Regions from separate parts of the Homo sapiens genome. Here region 1 is linked to region 2. A link means that fine-mapping ties the variant in region 2 to the expression of a gene that starts in the linked region. Tissue or cell type: whole blood. Region 2 holds a variant in brackets; the other region holds the start of a gene. All regions are shown on one strand. Distances are between the middles of the regions.

What was found. PIP is the estimated chance that this variant, and not a neighbour inherited with it, causes the effect. A credible set is the group of variants that fine-mapping cannot tell apart.
Region 1: it holds the start of PCSK1N, and the variant in region 2 is the best candidate, but not a certain one, in a credible set for the expression of PCSK1N in whole blood (TOPMed, PIP 0.85).

The regions. Positions count from the first base shown.
Region 1 is chrX:48,834,265-48,837,171 of GRCh38, forward strand. It overlaps PCSK1N (proprotein convertase subtilisin/kexin type 1 inhibitor), which reads right to left and starts at 1,346. Exons shown (of 3, transcript NM_013271.5): 1 at 1,155-1,346. The coding sequence starts at 1,268.
Region 2 is chrX:49,045,620-49,048,526 of GRCh38, forward strand. No RefSeq gene overlaps it. Among named protein-coding and RNA genes, the nearest start is that of TFE3, 3.7 kb to the left of the region's middle. RefSeq lists a cis regulatory region at 1,538-2,117 and a silencer at 1,718-1,911. The variant G/A (reference allele first, on the strand shown) is at 1,243.

The sequences.
Region 1 (2,907 bases), 210 kb before region 2:
TATATATTAAACACATTGTTACACGGATATAAGGTAACAGTTTTTTTTAATTCCCATCTTTGATGCAGACAGTATTGAAGAGCTAGAGGAGGATGCCTCTCCAAGTGCCCTTGCTGGCGCCCACCACTCCTCAGTCACCCCGGGGTATCACACTCACCAGCAATCACAGCCTCACACACACTCATGAGGACTGACAGGCCTGGAGATGTCACATATACAGCCCAACACTGCCACAGCCACATGCAAGGACCTGCACACGTTCACATCCGCAGCTGCTCCTGCAGTTACAATCGCCAAGCCACCCAGGTGCAAGGACATGCACCATCCTTAAAGACACAATGCAGCAGAGAGACATCATGGCTCCTCTCCTCAGGATGACACAGCTCCACAAAGAAACGGAGAGAAACAGTCTCAGGAACACGCAAACGAAATCCCAGGCACTTGGTCCAACAGAACCACTATGGAATGTGCACACGGAGATGCGAAGACCATTCCCTCTCAAACACAAACGAAATCACACACACACACACACACACACACACACACACACACACACAGAGAGAGAGAGACAGAGAGAGAGAGAGAGAGACACGCCCATAGGCCAAGCCAACACACATAATAAGGATTCACAAATATCCACACGGTGTCACTGAGAAAACAATCGGACGCACAAAAGAATCGCGCACAGAAGTATCCCGGTATCACACACACTACACACCCAGACGCACCACGGCACCTTTCTAGGACACTTGGAAGCGCTCAAACCAAAGAACACACACTTTCAAGGACACGACACCTCCACACCGCTCTCCTCACATCACACGCACACACACTGATGCGCGCGCGCCCTTTCTTAAAGCGCCTTAGTGCCGTGGACAGCGTCACAGGCACCGGGCACGGAGAGGTGGGCAGGGCACGGTTACCGGCGGCGCCCCGGACAACGCCACCCGCACAGGCAGAGACCAAGTCAGGTCTCAGGTGTGCCGGCGTGGCCTGGGCGCGGACCGGCGGCCGGAGCCCGGGCCACCCTCGTCGATCTCTCCGCACGTCCCGGGAGCCGGCTCGGGCGGGGGTGAGGCGGCGCAGCCCCAACCCCAACCCTCGCCGGTGGCATCCTCCCCCAACCCCCACCCCTCGCCGGACTGGGGTCGCACCTTTACCGGCCGCGCGCAGAGCGCGGGGGGCGGCCGAAACAGGCCGAGCAGCAGCAGCACCAAAAGGCCGACGCCCCCGGCCCGCGGCCCCCAGAGCAGCGGCGACCCCGCCATGCTGCCCCAGCGAGCCGGGCTCCGGACGGGCGGACTGGCTGGCAAGTGCGCAGTGCCGGGGCGAGCTGGCGAGGCTGCGGCGCTCTGCGGCTGCGCACGCCCGGAACCAGGCCCCCCCCCCCCCGCCCCCACCCCACCCACCCGACCGACGCAGGCGCAGCCTGGGGAGCTGGCAGCCCCACCAGACCTCCCGTCGCCATGGAGATGCCCAAAGGGCAAGGTGGAGAGCTGGCGGTTGCCATGGCAGTCGGAGGGCAGTTGCTGGGGCAACCGACCTTACTGTTACCTTAGTAGACAGGAAAACAGGCAAGAAAAATTGACTCAGTGGAGTGGAATGGGGGTCTGGTCCTCATCTCTCTTCCTGGGGGAGGAGATGGACTTTAGTTTGTTCATTAGATAAATAGTTAATGGATCACCCGCAGTGGGCCCGGCCCGCGCCAGGGAGATGGGTTCAATCTAGGTGATGTGACCATGGACAGCTCAGTTGGCCATTCTAAGGCTCAGGCTCTCAGCGGCGTAAAGGGGTTACTACTGACAGCCTCCCTCAAAGTGACCTTGGAGGTTTAGAATGACATTCAGTAGGAGCTCCATAAATGCTCCTTTCCATCCTCTCCTTGTCTCTTTGTGTTTTTTTTTTTCTGACAGTGTCTCGCTGTGTCCTCCAGGCTGGAGGACAGTGGCCGGATCTCAGCTCACTGCAATCTCCACCTCCAGGGTTCAACCAATTCTCATGCCTCAGCCTGCCAAGTAGCTGGGACTACAGGTGCCCACCACCACGCCTGGCTAATTTTTGTATTTTTGTAGAGATGGGGTTTCGTCATGTTGCCAGGTTGGTCTCCAACTTCTGAGCTCAAGCAATCGGCCCTCCTCGGCCTCCCAAAGTGCTGGGATTACAGGCGTTGAGCCACCATGCCTGGCCCCAGCCCAATACTTTCATCTCTCCATGGCTCTCTGTGTTTATCTTTCTGCCCTTATGTGCCCACAGCTCTCTCTGTGTCTTCCTCTCCCCATATGTCTCTCCTTGTCTATGACTTTCTCTCCTTTCATCTCTCCAACCGCTGTCTTGTCTCTGTCTTTATTTTACTGTCTATATCTACTTGTTTTCCATAGATAGATATATACATAGATACATATATGCATAGACTTTACCCATATATTGTTCCAGAAATAAGTTCAAGCCACTAAAATGACATATCAAAGGAAACAAGATCTTGAAAAAATGTATGTGTATCCATAGGGGGAAAAATGTTGGGGAGGAAATGTCATCAATGGTTATCTCTGGGGAGGTAACTAATGGTTTGTTACTTTCTCCTTTATACTTTTCTGTTGTCTGAAAAAAAAAAATTACAATAGGCCAGGCGCGGTGGCTCATGCTCGTAATCCCAGCACTTTGGGAGGCCGAAGTGGGTGTATCACCTGAGGTCAGGAGTTTGAGACCAGCCTGGCCAACATGGTGAAACCCCATCTCTACTGAAAATACAAAAATTAGCCAGGCATGGTGACACGCGCCTGTAATCTCAGCTACTCAGGAGGCTGAGGAGGAGGAGAACTGCTTGAACCTGAGAGGCAGAGGTTGCAGTGAGCTGAGATGGTGCCACTGCATTCCAGCCTGGGCGACAGAGCAAGACTCCGTCTCAAA
Region 2 (2,907 bases):
CTTGAACCCGGGAGGTGGAGGTTGCAGTGAGCCAAGATCGTGCCACTGCACTCCAGCTTGGGAGACAGAGCTAGACTCCGTCTCAAAAAAAACAAAAACAAACATGTAAGAATGGCTAATTTTACAAAAGAAGAAAGAGGAGGGTCTGGCGGGGTGGTTCCCACCTGTAATCCCAACACTTTGGGAGGCCAAGGTGGGAGAATTGCTTGAGCCCGGGAGTTTGAGACTAGTCTGGGAAACATAGGGAGACCCCGTCTGTACAAAAAAACTTTTAAAAAATTAGGCCGGGCATGGTGGCTCACGCCTGTAATCCCAGCACTTTGGGAGGCTGAGGCGGGAGGATCACAAAGTCAAGGGATTGAGGCCATCCTGGCCAACATGGTGAAACCCCGTCTCTACTAAAAATACAAAAATTAGCTGGGCATGGTGGCACGCGCCTGGCCTGTAGTCCCAGCTACTTGGGAGGCCGAGGCAGGAGAATCTCTTGAACCCAGGAGGCGGAGGTTGCAGTGAGCCGAGATTGCACCACTGCACTCCAGCCTGGGGACAAAGTGAGACTCTGTCTCAGAAAAAAAGAAAAAAAAAGAAAAGAAAAGAAAAGAAAAATTAGCCAGGTATGGTGGTGCACACCTGTGGTCCCAACTACTTGGGAGGCTGAGGCAGGAGGATCGCTTGAGCCTGGAAAGTTTGAAGTTGCAGTGAGCCGTGTTTGTACCACTACCCTCCAGCCTGGACGACAGAATGAGACTCTGTATCAATTAATCAATAAATAAAACTACATACTGTCTGATGAAAGATGCTACAAAGTTAAAAGACTTACAACAGACTGGCAACAAATATTTATAGCAGTAGAGCCACAGAGTAATTATCTTGTCACACATCCCAATCCTACAAACACCAGCTTCACACACGCATCTCAAATGTCTCCATGACAAGTGATATCCCATGACACCCTGCATGATATGCCTACCCTGCATCTTTCTGGGTTTCTCTCTCTCTTTTCTTTTTCTTTTTTTTTTGAGACAGAGTCTCGCTCTTGCCCAGGCTGGAGTGCAGTGGCACGATCTCGGCTCACTGCAAGCTCCGCCTCCCGGGTTCACGCCATTCTCCTGCCTCAGCCTCCCCAGTAGCTGGGACTACAGGCACCCGCTACTATGCCCGGCTAATTTTTTTGTATGTTTAGTAGAGACGGGGTTTCACCATGTTAGCCAGGATGGTCTCGATCTCCTGACCTCGTGATCC[G/A]CCTGCCTCGGCCTCCCAAAGTGCTGGGATTACAGGCGTGAGCCACTGCACCCGGACTTCTTTTTTCTTTTTCTCTCTCTCTTTTTTTTTTTTTTTTGAGATGGAATCTCGCTCTGTCACCCAGGCTGAGGTGCAGTGGCACTATCTCGGCTCACTGCAGCCTCTGCCTCCTGGGTTCAGGCGATTCTCCTGCCTCAGCCTCCCAAGTAACTGGGATTACAGGTGCCCGCCACCGCGGCCAGCTAATTTTTTTTGTATTTTTAGTAGAGACAGGGTTTCCCCATGTTGGCCAGGCTGGTTTCAAACTCCTGACCTCAAGTGATCCGCCCGCCTCGGCCTCCCATAGCGCTGGGATTAAAGGCATGAGCCACATGCCCGGCCCTAGTTTCTATCAATATCTCATTCTCAACTTTCTCAATACTTGCACCCCTGCCATATAGTTGGAGTTCCTTTCTTTCTTTCTTTCTTTTTTTTTGGAGACAGGGTTTCGCTCTGTCATCCAGGCTGGAGTGCAGTGGTGCGATCTCGGCTCACTGCAACCTTATCTGGGGTTTCACTGCAAGACAACTTCAAGGTGCTGTGAAGGGGACATGTGGAGCGAAGTGGGAGGGCAGCTGGATGGTGAAGTTGGGGGTATTTAGGGATAGATATGAGTGGTGATTGAAGGTGGCTTGGGGGTGAGTTTGGGTTCTACAACAGGACAGTTTGCAGGCAATTGAAGGATCATTTGAAGGTCTTTGGGAGGAATGGGGCTTCAATAAGACAGTTTAAGAATGCAGGTGGGAGCTATTGGGAGGGTGGATTGGGAATACGGTTAATGGGTGGAGGATGGTTTGGGGTACAGTTGGAGGGAATATAGGAAGATGGGTTTTTAGAGATAGAGTTCGGCCTTCTGTAAGGTGGTTTAAGGAACAGATGTTAACTGTCATAAGATGTTGTGGTAGGCTGAATAATCCCCTCCACCCCTGCCAATATATTTATGTCCTATGTCCTAATCCCTGGAATTTTTTTTTAATTAATTAATTTTTTTTAGACAAAGTCTCACTCTGTCACCCAGGCTGGAGTGCAGTGGTGTGATCTTGGTTCACTGCAACCTCCGGCTCCTGGGTTCAAGCCATTCTCCTCCCTCAGACTCTCGAGTAGCTGGGACTACAGGCAGGCACCCGCCACCACGCCCGGCTAATTTTTTGTATTTTTAGGAGAGACGGGGTTTCACCGTGTTAGCCAGGATGGTCTTGATCTCCTGACCTCGTGATCTGCCCGCCTCGGCCTCCCAAAGTGCTGGTATTACAGGTGTGAGCCACCGCATCCGGCCAAGGAACTCTTTATTTTTAAAGAGTCTTGCTCTGTCACCCAGGCTGGAGTGCAGTGGTGTGATCTCAGCTCACTGCAACTTCGTCTTCCTGGTTCAAGCGAATCTCTTGCCTCAGCCTCCCAAGTAGCTGGGATTACAGGCATGCTGCACCATGCCCCATTAATTTTTGTATTTTTAGTAGTGACAGAGTTTCACCATGTTGGCCAGGCTAGCCTTGAACTCCTGACCTCAAGCAATCTGCCTGCCTCCGCCTCCCAAAGTGCTGGGATTACAGGCATGAGGCACGGCGCCTGCCCCCTCACCCATTTTTTTTGTTTGTTTTTTGAGTCAAGGTCTCACTCTGTCACCCA